Regions from separate parts of the Homo sapiens genome. Here regions 2, 3, 4 and 5 are each linked to region 1. The links come from fine-mapping of genetic effects on plasma protein levels. A gene starts in region 1. Each other region holds a variant in brackets. All regions are shown on one strand. Distances are between the middles of the regions.

Evidence for each region. PIP is the chance, under the fine-mapping model, that this variant and not a neighbour inherited with it causes the effect. The UK Biobank Pharma Proteomics Project read protein levels with antibody pairs (Olink). The fine-mapping took linkage between variants from a reference panel, not from the people measured, so its PIPs are less certain.
Region 2: its variant is fine-mapped to the plasma level of the GFRAL protein (UK Biobank, PIP above 0.99).
Region 3: its variant is fine-mapped to the plasma level of the GFRAL protein (UK Biobank, PIP above 0.99).
Region 4: its variant is fine-mapped to the plasma level of the GFRAL protein (UK Biobank, PIP 0.93).
Region 5: its variant is fine-mapped to the plasma level of the GFRAL protein (UK Biobank, PIP above 0.99).

Annotation. Positions count from the first base shown.
Region 1 is chr6:55,325,496-55,330,607 of GRCh38, forward strand. GFRAL (GDNF family receptor alpha like) reads left to right here and starts at 1,974. Exons shown (of 9, transcript NM_207410.2): 1 at 1,974-2,081. The coding sequence starts at 2,060.
Region 2 is chr6:55,003,009-55,008,120 of GRCh38, forward strand. No RefSeq gene overlaps it. Among named protein-coding and RNA genes, the nearest start is that of FAM83B, 160 kb to the left of the region's middle. The variant C/T (reference allele first, on the strand shown) is at 2,989.
Region 3 is chr6:55,883,686-55,888,797 of GRCh38, forward strand. No RefSeq gene overlaps it. Among named protein-coding and RNA genes, the nearest start is that of BMP5, 11 kb to the left of the region's middle. The variant C/T (reference allele first, on the strand shown) is at 2,697.
Region 4 is chr6:55,564,576-55,569,687 of GRCh38, forward strand. All of the region lies in intron 1 of HMGCLL1 (3-hydroxy-3-methylglutaryl-CoA lyase like 1), which reads right to left. Among named protein-coding and RNA genes, the nearest start is that of HMGCLL1, 12 kb to the right of the region's middle. The variant C/T (reference allele first, on the strand shown) is at 2,966.
Region 5 is chr6:54,951,251-54,956,362 of GRCh38, forward strand. No RefSeq gene overlaps it. Among named protein-coding and RNA genes, the nearest start is that of FAM83B, 110 kb to the left of the region's middle. The variant A/G (reference allele first, on the strand shown) is at 2,549.

The DNA of each region.
Region 1 (5,112 bases):
GTCTGGCAAAGATTAGCACCATTCACAGGGTCTTATATTCAGGTTCTGTGGATCACTGCACTCTAGAAAGTCATAACTATATCGCCTTCCTTGAACAGAAAATTATGTTATTCTCTTCCTTTGTTTCATAAGTTTATTTTCCTTGTGGTTGCTCTTCTTAAACTCAGCACTTAGATACATTACTAAGCATGTGGTTTTTGCTGCCCCAAGATCCCTTCAGCTGCTTCTTCTAATACCATAATTTTCCTTCGTGATGCACACCTTCTGCACCATCAGATTCTGTGCTTTGAAAAGGGCCAACTACACTGACAACCTGTATCTATGATACTGGACATGGGGTAAGTTCCTTTTGTAAAATTGATTGGCACTTGACACATCTAGAACTGATGTGACTTAATTCTGCAACTTTAATAGTAAAAGAATGACACTTTCTACCCTGCTTTCTAAGAGAGAAGGATGTTTGCCAAGGGCTTCACAGCCATCTTCCCACCAGAAGGAAATAGCCTTTCTGGGAATAGAACTGGTAGAGAAGAATGCAGGTAAGAGACAGGAGGAAACAAACAACTTAGACCCAGAGAAAACAGTTTAAAACACACCTGAAATTAATTCTTCCCACGGACTCTTCAACTATGGTAGTAACCAACTCTGTCCTAGTTTAAGTCCTTTTAAGTTGGCTTATATCTAAGCTTGTCTTGGTAGAAGTCATTAGGAAAGTTTAGTGACTCAATCCCTTGAAAAGAAGAAAAGATTGATTAATTTTATGATATTATAATCCTTCTATTATGTAATAATTAAGTCAGTGAATGTAATATAATCAATTTTTTTGTGATATAAGCCCCTCATATACATACCTTATATTACAGCAAGAATTAATACAATTGACACATTTTACAAAGGAGTGAATAACTTCCAATGCTAAGTCACTCATCTAGATCTATAGAGAAAAGCAGTGTTATAATTTTTGTTTGTTGGACTCTAGAGTCTGTGTTTTTTCATTATGCCTGCTGAAAACAAAATATAGTATAACTTCTCTACTGGTATAAAATAAACATGAACAATATGCAATCAAAAACTCAATGGTGTAACTGCACAAATACTTCTCTCCCATCCCTATCTCTTCTTAATTTCTTGCCAAAGCAGCATTTTATTTTTTAAGCATTCATTCTAGAAAGGCCTCCAGGTGATTTAGAAATAGAAGTCTCATGACACCCCAAGAAAGATGATGTGCTGTAGGTTTACATGAGGAAGGGCGTAGCCAAACCAAGGCATAAGATAAATAAGTCCCTTCATTGAAACTAGGAAAAAAAATAGTTGTCAAGTGATGCACACAAATGTAGATGATTATCTTTCCAGTGGAACATAGAATTTCTGCATCACTGAGAAGAGTATGTTTTTTACACTGTAGCTGTACTTGGAAGGTATCAGATACTGTAGCTGAAGTGGCATAATTTTTAAGCATACTGGGGTTTGTGGCACATGTAATACAACATTCTTTGTTTGGGAAGCAGCTTCCCAGTATGTTTGAGTTATATCAGGCTAATTCTAGTAGAACTTCGATTTTGCATACATTTTCCAGGGCTATTATGCGTTTTTAGCTTTTCTATATCCTCAAATGACATGAAATTGCCTTAATGAGGCTAATTAAACAAGTGGAGACTGAGTATGCTCAAGTGTCTTTGAAAATTTTGGGTCATATTTGGGAGGCTTTTACGTAGTGTTGTATTTTAGTTAAGGAAAATAAACCTTTTTCATGAACGTGCAGATTATGTATCATTTCTCTTAGTATTTGGCTCATGGGCTTTCTTAGAGGCATAATATCCTAATATTCAAGACCAGCACCCTCAGGAGAATAATCGAATTTGAATATAATTAGAACAGTTCACAACTTAGGAAACACTGGGGAGGAAATGATGATATAGGAAGCTGACTTGAATTGGTAATGCCTTTAGGAAGCAAACACAGAGGCTGAAGCCTTATTCTGGACAGTTACTCTTAAGAAAGTTGTCAGAAGAAACGCATCTGCCTTTTTTTCCAGGTGAACTGCCGTGAGTTGTCCAGCATGATAGTGTTTATTTTCTTGGGTAAGTGAATGGTGCTTCTGGTTTATCTGAATTATTCATAATACTAATTCTTTGTAAACTGAATACCATCACACTTAAGCTTAACAGGGGCTTATAATATGAAGTACCAAGTAAATTACAAATTTATGCTTTAACATGGTTTATTCTTCTTGCAAAAATGTACACTCACTTTTACTCACTTATTTCTAACTCTATAGATAATGCAGCATGTGAAAATTGTATTAATCTCTCAGCTTGTTTCTGTTTTATTGTATAGAATGACCCAATGACTTTGAGTTACTTATTAGGATTAATGGAATTCACACATGTGTTAGAACCTTTTAGAAATAAAAATAAAACCTTCCAGTATCTATTTACAAGTTATAAGATGAAAAATTTCAAACTGTTATCTATTTTATTTATTTTGCTTTGAAATTAAACAAAAATAAGATTAATTTAAAACATTCAATTTACCTACAGTGTTAATATTTGCTAACTAGAAGTAATTTAGTGAAGTAAAACCACTTAACACCATATCAGAATGCTTCATATTTTCATTAATTTTTATGACCTAGAACTCAAGTGTGGACTTACTTCTCTTGTATTGGATCCGATGAATGTATTATAAGATGTTGATGAAAAATAATTTATTTTTATTTAATGTAGAATCCATGAATCTATTTGCTAGATGTGTGACTGGAGAATATTTTATATCTTCTTTAGCATTTGGTAGAATCTATAAACTGAATTCAGAAAAGGAATAATTGTAACTGTAGCTAGATTGTAATTTTAAAAATATGGCATTTTATGTTTAAGCTAATATATACTTGAATAAAGGCATAATTATGGGCCAGAAAGCAAAGAAGTTTACTTTAAATTGTATCGAACATAAAAGGAGAGTCATATCAAGTCAAGGAAACAAGTTAAGAAGGAGAGAAATCCCTTATATTTTCAGTTTTTCTTTTGTTTAAGTAATATTTTTCCATTGTTCCATAATTTTGCTTTTTGTAATTATTCCTAAAATATTTTCTTATTTTTATAAAGATTGTTAATATTTCTTTAGTTCTTTTTTGTGATAAAGAGAAATATAGGAAACTTTAATTTTTATAGATCAGGCAGCAATATAATGAAGCTCACAAAATACATTACAGACTCATTATGACCTCAGTTGAAAAGGCAATGGCCTCTTATTTTCATCTTTTACTTCTAAATTAACTTGACACCAGGTTGCATGAAGGAGGGAAATAACTTCTTAACATTGTTAGAACTAAAATTATACTATTTGATATGTTGTACCAACATTTCCCATATTATATTTTTTAGAATGCTTGTTTGACATTATCTAAATAGGTCTTATAATGAGGAAAATGTCTGTTGGTAAAGAAATGTGGAAAACAATGAATTTTAAAATCTCAGAACATTTAGTAGGATAATAAGCCCCATACATCTTTAAAACACTGATATAATTTGCAGCATTATCCATCTTATTAATTTAAAAATAGAAGTTATTTTTCATTGAGTATTACAGGAAAATTCTTGAAAAATCCTAGGTTAAATACAAAACCACAAGTCATAGTTTGGAATGAATAAGACAGATTTTGGAGAGGTAATACATTCTTGATTCTTGTGGACCAAATCATTGAGGTGGTTTTCTTAGTTGAGTCAATATTTTGTTGAGTAGGAAGTGTGGAAAATCCTATAAAATAATCTATTAAGAAGCTTGTTCAACCAAAAACTGAAAATGTGAAAGGAAGTAAAACATTAAAAACTGAAAATGTGAAAGGAAGTAAAACATATTTGGGGAAGACAACATGTAGTATTTCTAAGTGATTATTACTCTGAAGTACTGATGAAGTTTTGATGATATATCTGGGATATTATCACTTATAAGATTCTTGAAGGGGCTTTTCACAAGATATAATGATTAATGGCAAATAAAATACCATTTTCTTATAAGTTGAGTTTATGACTTCAAATTTCTATTTCTGGGTCTTTGGAAAACTGGATTTGACCAAGTAAATTTGTGCTAGGATCAAAAGAGTCCTCTTTTTCTTTCTTTGGGCTAGCCAAATAAGGAGTACAAGGGCTTGGCTAGATGAGGTTGTCCATGAACACATGAGAAAACAGAAAGCTGATATGTCCATTTCCACTCCAGCCCTCAGCAAGAAAAATGTTACCAAGCTACACCCATGGGCCTAATCTCCAAATGCAGTGACCCAGCAAGTAGTACACATGGTCCAATCAGTTGTCTTGGATTCTTCTTATAAGATGAGATTTGCAAAGAGGTAAGATTTAAAAAAAAAAGAGAGATTTCAAGCCCTTACTTGAAGCCTATCACTCTACATTGTCACAGGTGATTCATAATTAACAACAGCATTTAAAAATTCAAATAATTTGGCTCTTATTTAGTTATAGCTTGACTCTCTTGATGACAGTTACTACAACTGTCTCTGTAACACAATTTCAATCCCTGTATTTTTTTCTATTAATTGATTTGGCTAGTGTCACTTCATATGTTTGCAGAATCAATTTGACTAACTTGCGTAACATATTAAATTAACATTGCTATTTTCTTGATTGTTTTTAGAAAACTTGCTGGATTTCTCCTCTAGCAAAAGTAACTTGTAAATATCTGGAAGGTATTATTTTTTAGATGTTATCAGTTATTTATATATCTTATATATAAACATCTAATAACTTGGGTATAAGCCAATATTCATTTATTGAATACCTATACTGCATCACTGTGTTTGGTGACAAAAATACAGTTATAAATTATCCTTAATGTCTGTGGGTAAAGCTGTACAATCCAGTGGTGGAGACAGGCACATGAATATATACACTACAGAACAGTAAAATCTGTAATTGCGGGATCCCCACAGTTCTAGTAAATGGATGGAAGATGTCAAATTCAATTTGAGTGTGGAAAAAGGGGAGTATAGAATTCAAGTAAAGTTTCCAGAAAATAGCTAATGATTGTGTTCAGTTTTAAACAACAAAAAGGGTTATTCCAGAAGAAAAAGAAAGAAAATACTTATCAGGGATCAGACAG
Region 2 (5,112 bases), 320 kb before region 1:
TTCCTTGCCATTACTTCTATCTCCAATCTCATCTTCTACTACTGTTTTCCTCACTCACCATGTTCCATATAAACCATACCTAAAAGCCTTTTGATGTATTTCAAACAAACCAAATTTCTATTTACTTTAGAGTCTTCATACTTCACATCTGAAATACTTTGCATATCTGCACAGGTTGGCTTCTTCTTTCTACTCAGTTTAAACATTCCTTCCTTATTGAGGCTTTCTTAGCACCCAATTTAAAGTAGCCCCATCTGGGTACTCTTTGTGGCTCTAGGTGTAAATACCCCTAGTTTACTAGTATCATCAGATTGTCTTGTAAGTTTCACAGCTAAAGGGACCTCACTGTGCTGGCCACCACTGTATTTTCTAGCACTTATATCACTACCACATATCAAACAGGTGCTCAATGAATATATACGTATAATGAGTATATAAACGAATAAATAGAAAGAAATGAATTTCCTGATAATGAGAAATGCTGAGAGAAAAAAACAAGAGGGAAAGGGAAGATGATTGTGGAGGAACATTCATCAGGTAGGACTTTCTGAATGAGGTGAGTCACATTTGAACTTGAAGAAACATGGGCTTTGTCCTTGGAAGGGAAGACAAATGTATGCAATAGACCTGTATTTCAAATAGATATTTGGAGATGACCAGAGCTATTTCTAGAATGTGAAAAAGGAACATTATTGGAGTAGGGAGGGGGGCGTTGTTGAGCAAGATTGGTAAAAGTAGGTTTTAGTCTATAGGCTGCCTAGTTCAGATTCAGCCTAGGGAATGGAAGTTTGTACTGGTGAATGAATTACATTTTTAAAAATCTGAATAATTTAGCACCTCATCTCTGAATAAAAGCCTTATGGTGTCTGATATCTCAAGTGTTTTTCTAAATCGGTGCCTGGAACAAGATGTTAAAAGCAAGAGCTTTGGAAACAAACAGATGTGAGAGTGTATGCAGGCATCAATTTGCCAGTTGTCTGACATTGAACAGTTACTTAATCTCACCTCCTGAACTCCAAATTGCAGTTTTTTTACAAGATTAATTTTAAGAATATAAATAACTCAAAGCCATGAGTGACACCAGAAGGATTAATAAATGTGTGATCATTATCATATTAATATGTTAAAGCATAGTATCTGATGTGAGTTTCAAACCTGTTATTGAAATTGCTCATTTCACTATAGTAGTACCAGCCAGCTCATTATCTTGTCTCTCCACCCACCACACGGGTGCTGACAAACGTTGGTATCACTGATAAAAATGGTAGGGTAGGCTTAGTTTTAGAAATGTTTTGTAATGGAGAAAAATAAGTAGAATTATCTTATAGGTGGCAGAATACTGACATTTTGGATGTAACAAATTGCATTTGGCTAAACACTTAAGTGAAATTTTAAAAACTAAACTATGTAAGTTAACTTTCTTAGTCAGGTCTTTGTACTCAACTAATAATGGAATGACTGCATTCTTGAAAAGTTCATTCATTCACTCACACTCACTGAGCACTGACATTGTGCCAATCAATGGTCCATGTGCTGAGAAAATAGTGCTTAAAAGCAGACATGACCCTTGGCTCTCATTGAGCTTATGGTATTGTGGAAAAGACAATTAATAAATAATTCAAAAAACTAAAATTACACAGTGATAAGTGCTATAAAAGAGAGTTACATGATTCCATGGAATTCCATAATGAAGAAAGCTTACTAGAAATATAAATTTCTATAAAAATATTTATAGGTTCCATTAACTTGAATTAAATGCATGGCAAACTGAGAAAATGGATCTATTATAAACCTAGTTAAAAAACATTTTTTTAAATATTTTTTCTTGGTAGTTTGTTTTGTTTTCTTTTTTCCCCCCTTTATTTCTTCTTAAAACAAAAGGGGATACATGTACAGAACTTTGCTGAAGTTGCTCATCAGTTCCAGAAGTTTTTGGGCTGAGATGATGGGGTTTTCTAAATATAAAATCATGTTGACTGCAAACAGAGACAACGTGACTTCCTCTCTTCGTATTTGAATACCCTTACTTTCTTTCTCTTGCCTGGTTTCCCTAGCCAGAACTTCCAATACTATGTTGAATAAGAGTAGTGAGAGAGGGCATCCTTGTCTTGTACCAGTTTTCAGAGGGAATGCTTTCAGCTTTTGCCCATTCAATATGATATTGGCTGTAGGTTTGTCATAAATAGCTATTATTTTGAGATATGTTCCACCAGTACCTAGTTTATTGAGAGTTTTACCATGATGAAGGGATGTCGAATTTTATCAAAGGCCGTTCTGTATCTATTGAGCTAATCATGTGGTTTTTGTCATTGATTCTGTTTATGTGATGGGTTACATTTATTGATTTGCGTATGTTGAACCAGCCTTGCATCCAAGGGATGAAGCCAATATCATCGTGGTGGATAAATTTTTTGATATGCTGCTGGATTTGGTTTGCCAGTATTTTATTAAGGATTTTCGCATTGATGTTTATCAGGAATATTGTCCTGAAGTTTTATTTTTTTTTGTTATGTCTCTTCCAAGTTTTGGCATCAGAATGATGCCGACTTCATAAAAGGGGTTAGGAAGGAGTCCCTCCTATTCAGTTGTTTGGAATAGTTTCAGAAGGAATGGTACCAGCTCCTTTTTGTATTTCTGCTAGAATTCAGCTGTGAATCTGTCTGGTCATGGACTTTTTTTTTGGTTGGTAGGCTATTAATTACTGCCTTAATTTCAGAGCTTGTTATTGGTCTATTCAGGGATTCAACTTCTTCCTGGTTTAGTCTTGGTAGAGTGTTTGCATCTGGGAATTTATCCATTTCTCCTAGATTTTCTGGTTTATTTGTGTAGAGGTGTTTATTCTCTGATGGTAGTTTGTATTTCTGTGGGATCAATGGTGATATCCGCTTTATCATTTTTATTGTGTCTATTTATTTCTTTTCTCTTTTCTTCTGTATAAGTCTAGCTAGCAGTCTATTGTGTTAATTTTTTCAAAAAAAAAAACAACTC[C/T]TGGATTTGTTGATTTTTTTGGAGGGTTTTTCGTGTCTCTATCTCCTTCAATTCTCCTCTGATTTATTTCTTGTCTTCTGCTAGTTTTGGATCAGTTTGCTCTTGCCTCTCCAGCTCTTTTAATTGTGATGTTTGTATGTCAGTCTGAGATCTTTCTGGCTTTCTGATGTGGGCATTTAGTTCTATAAATTTCCCTCTTAACACTGCTGTACCTGTGTCCCAGAGATTCTGGTATGTTGTCTCTTTGTTCTCATTGGTTTCCAAGAACTTCTTAATTTCTGACTTAATTTCATTATTTACCCAGGAGTCATTCAAGAGTAGGTTGTTCAATTTCCTTGAAATTGTGTGGTTTTGAGTTATTTTCTTAATCCTGAGTTCTAATTTGATTCCACTGTGGTCTGAGAGAATATTTGTTATGATTTTAGTTCTTTTGCATTTGCTGAGGAGTGTTTTACTTCCAATTATGTGGTCAATTTTAGAATAAGTGCCATGTGGCGCTGAGAAGAATGTATATTCTGTTGATTTGGGGTAGAGAGTTCTGTAGACGTTTACTAGGTCCACTTGATTCAGAGCTGAATTCAAGTCCTTAATATACTTGTTAATTTTCTGTCTTGTTAATCTGTGTAATACTGAGAGCGGGTTGTTAAAGTCTCCCACCATTATTGTGTGGGAGTCTAAGTCTCTCTGTAGGTCTCTAAGAACTTGTTTTATGAATCTGGGTGCTCCTATATTGGGTGCATATATATTCAGAATAGTTAGCTCTTCTTGTTGAATTGTTCCCTTTCCCATTATGTAATGCCTTTCTTTGTCTTTTTTGATCTTTGTTGGTTTAAAGTCTGTTTTTCAGAGACTAGGATTGCAATCCCTGCTTTATTTGCTTTCCATTTGCTTGGTAAATTTTCCTCCATCCCTTTATTTTGATCCTTTGTGTGCCTTTGAATGTAAGATGGGTCTCCTGAACACAGCACACTGATGGGTCTTGATTCCTTATCCAATTTGCCAGTCTGTACCTTTTAATTGGGGCATTTAGTCCATTTACATTTAAAGTTAGTATTGTTATGTGTGAATTTTATTTATTTATTCATTTGAGACAGAGTTTCACTCTTGTTGCCCAGGCTGGAGTGCAATGGCACGCTCTTGGCTCACTGCAACCTCAGCTCACTGCAACCTTGGCTCACTGCAACCTCCGCCTCCTGGATTCAAGCAATTGTCCTGCCTCAGCCTCCTGAGTAGCTGGGATTACAGGCGTGTGCAACCACACCCAAATAATTTTTGTATTTTTAGTAGAGATGGGGTTTCATCATGTTGGTCAGGCTGGTCTCGATCTCCTGACAAGTGATCCAGCTGCCTCAGCCTCCCAAAGTGCTGGGAGTACAGGCATGAGCCACCATGCCCCACATATGTGTGAATATGATCCTGTCATCATTATGCTATTTGGTTGTTTTGCACACTACTCAATGCAGTTTCTTCGTAGTGTCATTGGTCTTTATATTTTGGTGTGTTTTTGCAATGGCTGATGCCAGTTTTTCCTTTCCATATTTAGTGCTTCTCTCAGAAACTGTTGCAGGGCAGGCCTGGTGGTAACAAACTCCCTCAGCATTTGCTTGTCTGGAAAGGATTTTATTTATCCTTCAATTATGAAGCTTAGTTTGACTGGATATGAAATTCTGGGTTGAAAATTGTTTTCTTTTTTTTTTAACAATGTTGAATATTGGCCCCCCATCTCTTGTGGCTTGTAGAATTTCTGCTGAGAGGTCTGCTGTTAGTCTGATTGTCTTCCCTTTGTAGGTGACCTGGCCTTTCTCTCTTATTGCCCTTAACAGTTTTTCCTTCATTTCGACCTTGGAGAATCTGAAGATTATGTGTCTTGGGGTTCAACTTCTTGTGGAGCATCTTAATGGTGTTATTTGTATTTCCCGAATTTGCATGTTGGCTGTTAGGTTGAGGAAGTTCTCCTGGATAATATCCCGAAATGTGTTTTCCAGCTTGTTTCCATTCTCCCCATCTCCTTCTGGTACTCCAATCAATCATAGGTTTGGTCTTTTTATGAAGTCCCATATTTCTTGGAGGATTTGTTCATTCCTTTTCATTCATTTTTCTCTATTCTTGTCTGTATGTCTTATT
Region 3 (5,112 bases), 560 kb after region 1:
CAAGGATGTGGTATTTGACAGTGGAGACGTTTACTTTACATAATTGGGAGCATTGGGTTTTGAATTAGAACTGATTCAAGCACTGGTTTTGCTACTGTCTGCTTTGTTACATGTGAAATGTCACTTAACACATCTGCCTCGGTTTCTTTACCTTAAAAAAGGGATATTAATAAGAAATATTTCAGAAGATTTTTATAATCATTAAAGGATGCAGTATGTGAATATTCTTTCATAAATGTAATCACTATCTTAGCATTTGTCACATTATTCAGATCACTGTGGAGAAGTGTATAATTTTCATACCTTTACAAAGAGATCGCCCAAAACATTTAGCATGCTACTGCACATTTAGATTTTTAAAAATATGGTAGTGAAGGGGAGGTGTAGTATATAGCATTTTCCAAAAAAATTTTACTATGGAATCACAGTATCTAAGGAGCTAAGAAGGTGATTATCCAAGGAGCTGATTGCCATCATGCAAAACATATCCTAAGACTGATTTTCAACCAGAACATCTGGAAAAGAGTACGTCTGTCTTGTTATAAATGGAGAAGCAAAATAACACAACAATTGAAAGCCTCTGCTCAGGAACTAGACTAAATTTGTATCTCACTCCACCATTTCATAATTGTATAAGCACTATCTGCCTCAGTTTCCTGATCTGTAAAATGGAGATAATGGCAGGTGCTATCACTTAGGGTTTTATGAAGATTAAATAAGTTAATAAACATAAAAAGACTTGGCATGGGTCCTGACACAAAATAAATAATAAGTGTCAAGTGTTATAATATTTTACTACTTCTTGAAGGATGGAAATTTCTTCTTATGCATTATTGTTGCCTCAGTGTTATAGGAACAGTGTTTGATATATAGATGTCCAATAGAATGAATATTCATAGAGTGAAATTTATAAATTTGCTTAAAAATATTTACAAACCATCTATAAGCAATGACAACTATTAAATTAACATTATAATTATTCATATATTTTATTACTTTACTAATATTGTATCAAAGTCTAAGAAATGTATGTCACAATTGTGACTGGTCCATATAAACTTTTACACAGTTTATATGACAACACAGCTTAAAAAAATGCATTCTCCAGTTTAATACATAGCAGTCAAAATGCTTATCTACTAAAGGATATTTTCTTATGCCAATATGACCTATAACAACACTAAATTCCTTGAGAAACACACATAGAAGTAAGCAAACATAGTATGAATCCAAGGTATAAAAATCAGTTCACGGTTTTTGCTCTCTCTCTTCCCAAGTCTCACTGACCAGCCGTAGACAATTTGACTGTCATTTCCGCTCTTTCAATTGAGAAGCAAGTGAGTAGAAGAAAGATAAAATTATAACTAGTGTAACCTATTCTGTCCTAGAAGTCTTTCTTAAGTTAGCTGGTTAAGGAGTCTTACATGAATAAATAAGTCATTTAAAAAGACTTTGTCACTAACATTGATAAGTGAAAAATAAATGCATTTTATTCATTTTGATAAAATCAATTATAAAAACTTATTTGGGCTTACCAAATAAAAATAGCTATCATTCAAATATGTAAAGGCTTTGTTTAAAACTTGTTTCAAATTTGCTATGAGTGGTTCATTAATTTATATTTAGTATTATTTGCCAAATATACCCAATTCATAACTTTTATATACATATTTAAAGATAAAATTCTCAAGTTCAAAAATGTAATTATAATAAATGGTAGAATTTACTTTTTCCACGTTTATGAGAGTAAAAATGAAAGTCTTTTGGTGTTCAGACCAAACTCAAAAAAAATCCCTAAACTTCTGTTTTAGAATTTTGATGCCAAGCCTTTGCTAAGGAAGTAACAATCCACAGCACTGTTGCAAACCTCTAAAGAAATTAGTTTTTATACAAACACTGACAGGCTCTGACCATCAGTGGCATTAGAAGGCGCCACCATAATTGCAGTCTCCTTAAGACATAACTTATTTCAGGCTAAGTAGGAGAGCCAATATTTTGTATTTTAATTAAGAAACCTGGATTTTGTTTGTAATAATTGACTGTTAAGTCAATTATTGCCAGGACATACTTGTAAAAGAGAATTTGTGCCTCCAATAAGCTTTCATTTAAGATTTTCTGGAACAGATTTGGAATTTGGGATTGAAATCTGTTTCAATTATTTATGTTAGCTGCTTTCATTGTAATACTAATAGCTGAAGATTGTATTTGTATGTATTTTCAATAGATGAAAATATTCATAAATGTTTATTATTTTCTTCTTGAAGAAAATGTTGAAAGATAATGATGAAATTATATTGTCTGTTACGAACTCTCAATCCAAACTATTCCCCTTATTAACTAGTTAGACATGAAGATAAATCACTGTTTTCATAGTGTTACAAAATAAATTAATTAATATTAAAGACAGAGTAGAACACCAAAGAGACAATCTAGTAACAAAGTATTTTAGATGTAAAACACCCATATGATGATGTTGAAAATGTCTAATTTTTGGCTGTTCAGATCAAACTATTCTATACAGTAATGCTTTAATGTTCTTATACTCAAAAAATGCTACTCAATTATAATTATTTTAAGTACATGTGATAGTAGTATTTATTAATTTAATAAAAGTCAATTGTTTTAAAAGTTAATTAGAATACATCTGAAAATTTTACCTCTGGAGAATGAGTTTCCAAAGGAAACTAGATGGAACA[C/T]TGCCACCTCTTGGTTATATAAATTGTAAAGTTGCAGAAATTTACTGTAACCTTTTTGAATGGAAATGTTTAGACACACTTTAAGCTTTTAGAAATAATAATCCTATCTCTATTGCTATGAAAATATACATCTTTAAATTTTTGCTTTTCAGTTACAGTTCTTTAAGTATTTCACTTACCATTTTACTAAGTTTGTCCAAAAACTCTTGAACTTTAGAACCTGGAAACAATTCTTCATGTTTATTTTGTAAAGAATGGCAAGTAATGACCTTGTAATGAAAAACACAAAGGGACTTTTATATCCTGGGTCTCTGTTATGAACATTTCTATTACTTCTTTTATACCAAACCACACCACTAACCTAGAGAACAGTATTTTGCAACGACACACTCAAATATGCCGAAACACTAATTACATTTCTTTCGGCTAGAAGGATTTATACCTTCTCACCCCATAAGTATTTTATGTACACAGTTTTAAATTATAGGGTAAAAAATTATACAGTAAGTACCTAGGCACATCTAGAGACTAATTTCGTGGGTGAAAAGAAATGAAAGGCTCTACATAGACATAGATTTCACGTAGGACAGGATCTGAAATTATGAGGTTGTCTCTACATGGGGTCAATGTAAAATAAAGGAAATCAAGGATGGGAAGGAAGATATACATTGATAAATAAAGTAAATAAAGGAATTGGTTCAACAACAAATTTCAAAAGTAAATAAAGGAATTGGTTCAATAACAAATTCTATTATTATTTTTCAGTACAGTTCTTACAACCTGACTGTAGTAAAAAAGCACATCTCTTGCTACATAAGTAAACAGTAAATCACATGTAATCAAAATAATGAAGTGAAATATACAGATGAGCTTAAAGGAAAATAAGAGAAATTCCTAGGCACCAACAACAAAGAAGAAATGTAAAACCAGATAATTTACAAAATGACTCAATAGATGTTTAGGGGGTTATCAGGCTCAGGAAAAGCCGCATTTCTAGGGGATGCAGATTAACTGTCCATATAGAGACATGAATATTACCTTGGACTTACATGAAGATAGATGTTGAACTTGAGATCCTTATAGAGAGCTAGGAAAATAAAGGGGGGACCTCTGAGCAATTGAAGAGAGAGATAAAATAATAACCCCTAGTGAAGTAATATTTGATTTGGCCTAAGGATATAAGTGAAAAATAAATTAAAATTCTCCTTTAAAAATTAAAACAAGGCCAGGCATGGTGGCTCACAACTGTAATCCCAGCACTTTGGGAGGCCGAAGCAGGTGGATCACGAGGTCAGGAGTTCAAGACCAGCCTGGGCAAGACAGTGAAACCATCTCTACTAAACATACAAAAATTAGCCTAGCAGGGTGGCGGGCATCTGTAATCCCAGTTACTCAGGAGGCTGAGGCAGAGAATTGCTTGCACCCGGGAGGCAGAGGTTGCAGTGAGCCAAGATCGCGCCACTGCACTCCAGCCTGGGCAACAGAGCAAGATTCCGTCTCAAAAAATACAATACGATACGATACGATACGATACGATATGATACGATACGATACGATAAATAAATAAAATTAAATAGTTCATGGTACTCTGCTGTCCTTAAGGTTAGTGGTAGAATTCCCAAGTCTCAATATTAAAAACTTGTTTTAAACCAATTGAACAAACATAGCATAGATACATATTAATAGCTTCCCTTTAAGCACTAGAGTCCACAGAATTCTGCACAGGGAGAAAATACTTATTAAAGAAAAGTTTAAAATCAAAAACTACAAACCATATAAGGAAGCAATCTAAACTGAGCAGGAGCTGTCAAGTAAGACAGCAGGAAGTACTGCACATCCCCAAACTGGAGGGAATAAAACCATCCAAAGTAAACTTTTAAAACTATGTTTAAAATGGTAAAGCCACAACAAAAGAAATAGAAATCATAATTTTTTAAAGCAGGACATTGATAAAAGAACAGGAGGATTTGAAAATTAATAAAAATTTAATAGAAATAAAATTATGAACACCAATTTTTTAAAAAATCAATCAATAAATGGTCCGATTTCACACAGCTGAAGGGAAAAATTTAATGAAGATAGATCTGGGAAATGTATCCACATATATTACAAAAAAGATACAGAAAGAAATATAAAAAAGATAGTTGGATATCTATCTTTTCAATACATGGCAGGTTTCTCTTAAACAGTGTCTTTGTCTCAATATAATATTTACAAAGAGATTTCAATAACAACTACCCTAATAGTCACTACTATTAATACTCTCAAGTATTGCTTGAAACAATCATAGAAAAACTTTCCATGGTGCAGGTAGCCAAATAGTAAGAATGTCTTCAAAATTGTTAAAGAATATTCATATGTTCTTCAGTGTAAAAATGTGAATACCTCAAGAAAATGTTTTGGTTTAGGTCCTGAT
Region 4 (5,112 bases), 240 kb after region 1:
ATATATTTCCCAACAGAAGTTATCCAAGAATTTTCATTATGTATGTGAATTTTACATTACACAATATTTGGTATAAATGCAGTAATACATTTTACACAAATTTGATCTTTTTGATGACTTTGAGTCAATGGTACATGCTTTGATTTTGAGCTACTTTCTAAAGAACTAAGAAAGGATGCATGTATCAGAAATAGCCTATAAAGCTTACAAGAGTTTTGGTGGTGTGGCATGTACAGAACAAAAGGAGAAGGTCATGAAAGTTTTCAAAAAAAAAAAAACCACTATGGAATAACTTTACAGAGTCTGAATAACATGTCTCTGAGAGAAAAGTGATTCATTCAGGTTTTTCCACCTCAGCCTGTGAATGTTGGGTCTCAACATGAATTAATGATAGAAGTTGAGCTACTTCATCCTAAGGATTTGTAGCAAACTACAATTTGTTTCCTTAAAGTGATAGCTTAATCTAGAACTTAATTAATATATTAAAAGAAAAAAGTTATCTTCCAATGAGTACTAGATAAATAATTGTATTATTATAACCTAAGTTCCTACTAGTCAATAGACTGACATTATGCAGTGAAAAACATTCACGCTTTGGTACCTAGTGTAAGTTAAAGTCCAGTACCTCTACCAGGTGAGTGGCCTAGAGTGGGTTTTATTAACTCTCTGAGCCTCCATTTCCTTATATTGAAAGTGAGAATAACAGGATCTTCTTTGCAAAACTCTAAGAGTTCAAAAATTATGTAAAGCCTTCAGCAAAGTCACTGAAATTATTTTGCTACTTGGTAAAGAGGAGTTAGTATTATTCTAATCATATAATTTTCCAGATTCCTATTAATAATACTCTATTAATGGTTAATGTAGTATTTTGTATATTGTGTATTATTTCATTTGTCCCATGTGATGTAAGTTGCAAATTGACAGCAAGTATGTTAAAATAATACTACTGCCCTTATATAACACTTTTTAATTAAGACAAATGATTGACATTTTATTTAATAAATTATCACTATATCTTTCCCATCAAAAGGTCAACATCTGTACAAATTCTTCAAAGAGCAAGTAGATTTAAGGGATCCAGCTCTCTAGAGATGAGTATTTATGCAAGCTTTATGTTCCATCTTTTTTAGCTCAAGTTTTCCTTTCAATATTTTCTAGAACATACATTTAGCAGAATTAAATTAAATATTAAAATACGGTCATAAGGGAATGGGGGCTAAGTGATAGTAGACATTCATGAGTGAAACCCTGAGTAACTATATCTGTTTCTCCAAGGTCTTGAAATTGTCTTTTAGACACAGTCCTAAAACCTAGGCAAGCAGAGTTCTAAATTACTCTCAGCTTTAACATTTGACCAGGTCCACAGTTTTCTATAAAATGCAAGGTTTGAACTGTCTCATATCATTTTAAAAATTAAGGAGTTATCAGCCCTTACATCAAAATTCTCAAAAATGGAAATTGTGTCTAACAAAAATAAGATTCATATTTTGACTTCAACATTAACCTATGATCAGTTTCTATTTCACAGTGAAATAAATATGAAATTGAGTAGAGAATTTAAAAAGTGAATGCCAGACTCTGTACACCCAGTGGGTTACAGATGTATGAAAGTGGTGGCAGAGAGCCACTCCACTTCCTTCAAGATCCAAAAACATTTGGAAGGAAAACTCAGAAGGAAAAATGTCTGACAGACATGTTCTCTTTGGGGCTTCCTGCCTCATTGTTTGCCAAGCTTCCTAGACCCTATTGCTTCTTAATAAAGTTCACCAAAAAGACTTTATGAAATGCAGATTTCATAGAATAAAACTTGTGTTAAAGGCGTTTTTATGTAGTTGAAGTTTTCTGCCATCTGTATTTCTCTACTTCACAAAATCAAGGAAGCGTGACTTGGAAAGTTATAAGTGTAAGGTGACATTTGAGGCACTTACTATTGGTGGAAAAAAGAGCCCGAACACTGAATCCTAAACCGGAGACCATAGCTTAGACATTGCAACAGAGAAGCTGCTTAACCCTGAGGGGATCATTACATCCTTCAATGTTTCTACTCCTTCTCCTGTAAAATAGAGTCATGTGAACATGCATATTGTGCACTGTGTGAATTAACTTAATAGAAACACAGATATGGAAAAGAAATGAAAAGTTGGAATCTAATTTCTCTGATCTTTACAACAGTAGCCAAGAAAAGGAACAAATAGGCTTTCAAATTTTCTAAAAACACCACCAGGATTTAAAAGTAGGCATTATAGTCTAACATGAAAAAGAATAAATAAGAACTAAAGCTACTAATTTTACTACTCAAAGATATATTTGATGTAATTAAATACATATTTTGCCAATCAGAAAGGCAGTTAATTTGGCTAAAATCACCTAAAGTTTAATACCAGAAATGTTGGTTATATTTACTTCTATAAACATTTAATGAAGACCTAAGTGTTTATGTCCTTGGGATAACAGAAAACTAAATAAAATATAGCCACATCCCTTAAAAAGACCTCAACATACCAGTGCTAATATTATACATTTAATAAAGAGATATTTCATTCTATTCAACCATATTGTAAAAGGGAACATGAAGAAAACAAGGATGGGTATCCCAAGTACTTCAAAAGTATTGAGGTTGGCCATTGGGAGAGGTGAAGGATACAAAAGAAATAGTCTTAATACTTGTAAAAAGTGAGTGAACCTCCAAACTCATCAAATTTGAAAAAAAATGTATAAAACAATTTATAAGATTATGGGGTCTTAAAATTATTTTTGTAAAGTGATAGATTAGATAGATGGATGAATATAGATAATAGTTATAGTTTTATAGGTATACACACACACACACAACTAAATGAATAACTCCCATGATTTTGCTCTGTCAATTCCACCAAAATCATCAATCATCTTACTCTGAACAGGAATGCCTTCTCTCTATCCAAATCCCACCTGACCCTCACATCCACCTTCACCACAAAGATTA[C/T]TATTGTTATCACTAATTGAATTAAGCTGAATTAAAACAAGTTTATAGGCTTGTGTTTTTAAATGAATTGCAAGAAAAAATTGCAGGGAAAAGAAATTAACATGATCTAAATAAACAGCAGAATGGAGAACTGAACTTTCAAAGGAACACAGCAATGAAGAATGAAAATGTGGTCTGGGTCATGCCCTTGAGATAGAAGCTCTAGGCGTTCTGTTTCTCATAACACTTTGTCCCTCCTCTTCCACAGTGATACTTACAGCCCTGCTAGCGTCGGAGTGCCAGAACCCAGCTCTTCTGCTCTCTCAACCAGGAAAGTAAACCTCAGTTCCTTGTATTAAAAATGTGTTTGGAACTCACAGCTCCGGTCCCTTCATTATTGTTTAGAAACCACAGCTTTTGTTTATTTACTTATTTAATTTTCAGAGGTTTTCTATCCTTGTTATTACTTGGCAGTCATATAAACTATATGGGGGGAGAAACATTTTAAAAATAAAAACCTCCATGAATCTAAATAATTCTAAAAATGACCTTCACATAAAATTATTTTATGGTCTGGTTTTGGAATGAATGTTTTGGGAACAACATTTACTAATTGGTATTATTTTCTATAAGAAAAAATGTAAAAATTGGCTTATAAATATGGCTATATCTGAGAGAAGAAATTAAAAACACCTGAGTTTTCATTTAGGACTAAATTCTGATCACTTAGAAAAAGGGAGATTGTCCAAAAGGGAAGATGGCAACCTTCTGGCAATTTAAAGATAATTTCCTGCTTGTTGAATGATAATGAATGATTAGGCTCCACCCTGCAGAAAAATAATCCAGTGTTCAGAAATGGTCTCATTTAAATATCCCTATGTAATTGTTCATGTGAAAGATCATAAAACCAAACATCTATAATCACAGGAAGATAATCTTGATTCCTGAGGAAGCTAAATATATTAATTAATAGTGCAAATTCTGTTTAAAGGCATTCAAGTTTACTTATATTTTAACTGCAGTTTCAACTAAACAAAATATTTCAGGGGTTATATTGGGCTCACCTAGGCTGATAATTTGCAACTACTACGTAGACTAACAATACATAGTCAGAACAGTGGTGGGAAACTGGGATTCTAAACTTTGTTTTCATTATTAGGGCTTTAAGCAGGCTGGACAATCCCTTTCAAATCTGAATTTCTATAAAAATGATAGCCTCCAAATACACAATTTTGCTTTATATCTTTTAAAAACCATGGGTCATATGAGAGTAACCCACTAAGTTATGGGTGTGCACGGTCTAGCCCCTTGGTTGATTAGGGGAAGTAAAATGAAACACACACACACACACACACAAACAGCTAAACTTGGAAGGGGATAGACACAGAAAGAAGAAAGGGTCAGGGAAAGTTACAGCACAGAGTGAATAAGCATAAAGAAAGCCAGAAGACTTGGAGGAGCTCAGAGCTAATGAAAAAAACAAGAACACAGAGTAGGGGGAGGGAAAGATGTGAAAGCCAGCTGGAATCTGAGAAAGCAAGAAATACAGGAGCCAACAGAAATCCAAGGACAGAAAGTATTGAAGATTGAAGGGAACAGGAAATTTATTGGAAACCAAGTTGTTTTTCCTTTTGTATCCAATGCAATTCTATTCCAGGCAGAACTCTAGTCTCAACCTCAAAAAGGATAGAAGGGAAGTCAAAAATCATAGCAGTCTTTTTTTCATGGGCAGGAGCCAGGAGCTCTGGAAAGACAGATTAGAGGAAACATGACCCTTTGACAGCAGATACAGGGGTAGAGGAGTAGCAGCACCATCCAACACAGTGTTTACTAAAATTGGGTTAAGTAGAAATAAAGATAATTGGGCTCCAACTCAGAGCTACTGAATCAAAATTTCCTCTATATTTAATAAACAATTTAGGTGACTCTTATCACAAGAAAAGTTTAGGAAGCACTGGTATCATGGCAAAAATTGCAGGCTTTAGAACTAGAACTGCTTGAGTTAAAATTCTAGCTTACTAGCTGTTGATCATAGGCACATTTTTTTAACCTTTCTGAACCACAGTTACCAAATCTGTAAAATGGATTATTGTAAGGATTAAATGAGCTACTGGATGTAAACAGGGAGTGCCGGGTTCATATTGAGCGTTCAGTAGTGGTAGCTGTAT
Region 5 (5,112 bases), 370 kb before region 1:
AACTGTGAGTACATTAAACCTCTTTTTCCTTATAAGCTACCCAGCCTCAGGTATGTCTTTATCAGCAGCGTGAGAACAGACTAATACACCCATTAACCTGTGGATAAACCTGCCTTGTCCACATTCTTAATTACATCACCATTTTGCATTATTTTGAAGCACATCTCACAGGTCATATGTGTGTTTTCATCATGTATCTCTAAAATTTAAGGATTCTCATCTAATGTAACTGTAATACCAGTACAAGTTATTTCTTAATATCATCAAAGATCCAAAAATGTTTTTCTTTGTTTGGCTGATAGTCAACATTATACTTCACTTAAAAGACCTGTCCTTAATATTATACATTGAGGATTGATTTGATATTAGATGTGGAAAATTTCGGACAAAATTTTTGAGTTAGTTTTCAACAGAGATGTAAAATGGCAAACATGGTATACTTTAAGCATGAAAATAACTTTTCCTTTACATTGCAAGTAAATGAGAAGAAAACTGGTATCTTTCCAGATTTGTAGTCCTTCCCCAAATATATACAACTTACTACTCACTCATTTATCAACTTTATTCAAACATCACTAGGATTTTTATTTATAGGTATACTTACTAAGCATGTTGCCTTATATTGATTCATTTATTCATTCACTGAAATTAAATGTCCATTATTTGCTAGATAACTATGTTATACTCATCATCCTTTTTTCCGGGAGCACAGTTCAATGAGCAAAGAGTCACAAACACACAACTAACATGCCACATGAGAAGTCATAGTGGAGATACTGCATACCAGTAAGATAAAAAAAGAGATATTCTATGCAGAGAAAAAACATATACTGTAAAAAGAAACAAAAGCATAAAAGGGGTTGTGCGTGGTGGCCCATGTCTATAATCCCAGCATTTTGGGAGGCCAAAGGGGGTGGATCACGAGGTCAGGAGTTCAAGACCACCCTGGCCAAGATGGTGAAGGCCTGTCTCTACTAAAAATACAAAAATTAGCTGGGCATGGTGGTGGGCACCTGTAATCCCAGCTACTCAGGAGGCTGAGGCAAGGTGGAGGTTGCAGTGAGCCAAGATAGCACCATTGCACTCCAGCCTGGGCAACAGAGAAAGACTCCATCCCACCACCTCCCACTCCCCCAAAAAAAGCATAAAAGGTATTTTTCTATAACATTTAAGTTTGTATGGTTTGACTTAGCATTTATGGAGGTGCAAAGGAGAAACAGCAAATGTTAGAAAACAGATTTTAGAGCCAAATTGTAAGGGGTCTTATGTGCTTAGCTCAAGTAGACTTTACCTTGGAAACAGCAAGGAATTCTTAGAGGCTCTTAGATACAGAATGACCTTTATTTTTATTTTTGGTAAAAATAAATCTCAAGAAGTGATACAGAAGATGGACTGAAGGGAAATATGGAGACTTGGAGACCAACTAAGCAGCTATTTTAGTAATCCAAGAAATTTGTAATGAGTGACAAACTAATACAATGGCATTGGGGGAAGAATAGGAGAAAAATTGAGAATTATTATGGAATTGAAAGAAAAATCAATAACAAATTTATTATTTTTATTTAAAAGGGGGTGAATTTTAGATAATTCCAATATTTTTATCTTTGGAAACTGCAGTCTCCTTAGCTTAGATAAGGCATGTAGAAGGAAGAGCATGTTCCATGTGTGTTTGTGTGAAGGGCATGGGGCACAGTGATGGTGAGTCATTTGCAGTTGGATTATGTTTCAGTTGACCATGAGACACCTGGTTATAGGTACCCACTAATGGTGTGTACCTGGAGCTCAACAGAGAAGAATGATAGATGGGGAAGTAATGTGCATTGGAGTCTATAACTGAAGCGATTAATACACAGGGTAAGATAGTGCAGGGAGAGACAGAAAGAAAAAAGAAGTAGAGACAGGAGAAAGAGAAGAGAAGAGCAAATGGTGGGTTTTTTTTGGCCTTTTTTTTTATTAATGTCTATGGAATAAATGAGTCTTCTCTGCTAAAAATCTGTTTCTTTTATTATTTATTGTGTCTTTTAAATAGTCAGGGACTTCTCCTAAAATCTTTACTTGGAAACTCCTGATTAAAATCCAAGATGCTGGCTATATATCTTATATACTGCTTCTGCGTTTATGAATGTGTATAAATACATACCAAAATTTCTCAAGATGCCAACAACCATAAAACTGCCTTAAGCCAAAAGTAACTTCCAAAGAAGATTTTGATGGCTCTCTTATTCTAAGTGTGTCTTCTATTGAATTTCTCTTTATCCAGATGGTCTATCATGATGAAAACTCAAACTCAAAAGTGCAACATTTTCAAAGATCTCTTCTAGTCTGATATCATTTGCTGAGTAAAGTGACTATTCTGTTTCACAATAGAACCAGGCTTTGACAGAGTAACTACAGCAGAACTATAAAGAAAGATCTAAGAGCTAGAGTTAGAACTAGAATGACTTTTAATGGGGCATGGAGTAAGTGAAGTTTCTTACTCTCTTTCATCATCTGAGAGGAAGGCAGAACTTAGAATATTGGAAGCATAATAGAGATGTTTTGTACCACA[A/G]GAGATGGTCCAAAACAGAACCCAACATTTGGAAATACAAACAAAGGGTAAAATGAGTTCCCCAAATATTGACAAATGGAGCATATAAACTGCTGGTTTATCTCAGAGCAATTGACATAGATAGTTATGGCTGGCCACAAGGACCTTTCAATCCACTGTTTCTTCTTCCTTCTGGGATTCTCTGATAAGAAAGCACCTGATGCCCCACCACCTTTAAGGCTTGGCTGAGAAGTAGCATTAAACTTAGACTTGGCAGGCTGCTGGGTGCTTCCTACTGCACTCCTATCCCTCTCTGCCACAATCTGTCCCTCTACCCAACCATGTTTACTCTCATATACACCAGTAGTATTCCTGCATCCTGATGAAGAATGGCCTATTCAATGACTTAGTTTCTGACTAGTTTGCTTAATAATTATTGCACCCTTGCAGAATAGGAGAGAGTAGTCAGAGGCACATGCTTGGGTGGACATTGTATCCTCTGTGATAAGAAATTGAAAAATAAGAATGAAGTATACATGCTTCAGAAGTAGGAACTTGGTTTGATAAATAGACAAGGTAGAACTAACCACTATGATAAGTGAGATTGGCAAAGAGTGTCACAACACTGAGCTTCAAATTATTGATCTGGAGTTACCTTGAATGTGGTCAAGACCAGTTTTAAAGATCAAAATAAAATTGAGCTTGAATTTATAGCAAAAGTGGAACAAATAGGGCATTGTATAAATTGCATTTTAATTTAGTCAAAGGAGTAAAATAAATAGATAGGACTCGAAAGCATCTGGAAAATGCATCAGTGGCAAACTTAAGTAAGTTACCGAAGCATAATTTCATGTGTTTGCCCCTGAACATCTTGGTTACATACATCAAATTTCTCTTGTTTTGTGAGGAATTGATTTAGACCAGGGGTCCTCAAACTTTAGCATGCATCTAAATTGCTTGAAGAGCTCATTAAAACACAGATTTCTTGAGGTCCACCCCCAGAGTTTCTGAGTTAGTAGGTCTGGGGTGGAGCTTGAGGATTTGCATTTCTAAGTCCTTGGATGATGCTCTTGCTGCTAGCCTGGGCATCATAATTTGAGTCATTGAATGCTAATTTTTTAGTAATGCTAAAAAATACTCTTAAATCTTAATTTCAGGAAAGGTTACACTACCAGAATTGAATGTTGACATCATGATGTTTAACAAATTCCACAAAGATAAAATATTAAAACTTGTTCTTTTAGGCATGATTTTCCTTCTTTACCATCTCTTATAAAACCTGTCTCTCATGCACATTATTAAACACATATTTGATGAGCCCCAGTTTATTTAATTGTATAGGGAAAGATACTATATGCTCTTGTTTGCTAGTTCTACACACACACACACACACACACACACACACACACACACTTCCTAGGACCTATATTTGGTTAAACGAGATTATATTGGAGAGAAACCACACTTCTTCCATCTTCAAGCTTAGAAATAATTTCCCGCATAAAATGTTCCCTCTTCAACTTGTGCAAAGTTAATTTATTTGCCTTATTGAAATTTGAAGGTTTTGCTTACTTAGCCGTAAAATGATATGTGCGTCAAAAGTGGAGAGGAATTATATCTGTACTAGTTTCTCATTGAGACAAATCTTATTTGTCTTTGTGCTAATGCATATTATTTTAAATAAATAACATGTGAAATTAGATTGGGAATTGTGTACTCTGTATCATTGCACTTTATTAAAATAACATTTAATTTGCCAGTTGAGAATGGAATATTTTTCTTTTCTCTGAAAGTTTTACCATCTTTAGTGACAAGGCAGCTCATTTGCTGTTCCTCCAGAGCTCTGTGGTTGCAATCAGTTTGATCTGGCTACTCTGCAGAAAGAAACACATTATCAAATACCCTGTACTTCAAGTGTGAATTCTGAAATTTTTGAGAAACCTATCAAAGACAATTTTTAAAAATTTGAGTAGGAAACAATAAGGTGCTGCATATAAGAGCCTCATTTTCATAAATAACAGCAGAATCCAAGGTTCTCACTCTGTCACCTAGGCTGGAGTGCAGTGGTGCAATCACAGCTCATTGCATCCTCAACTTCCTGGGCTCAAGCAATCCTCCCACCCAAGTAGCTGGACTACAGATGCACATCACCATGCCCAGCTAATTTTTTAATTTTAATTTTTGCAAAGATGAGGTCCCACCTATATTGCCCAAGCTGGTCTTGAACTCCTCCTGGGCTTAAACTACCCTACCACCTTGGCCTCCCAAAGTGCTGGGATTACAGGCGTGAGCCATTGCACCAGTCCAGCCTTTTACTTCTTGAATCGATGTTATATAATCACAGTAAAGAGCTACTGAGTAGTTGTGTTGACACTATTCTAAGACAATGCACTAGAATTATATTTTTAAAACACACTACTGGTTTATGTATTCTGTTCAGATTAAATTAAAATAATGAATGAATTTTAAGATATATTTGAATGCATCTGACTATTTAGAGTAGGATCAAAAATTAAAATAAAATGGAAAGATAATCAGGATTGGAAATTCTGTGCATTGTTATGAATGAGAGAATACCAAGGACT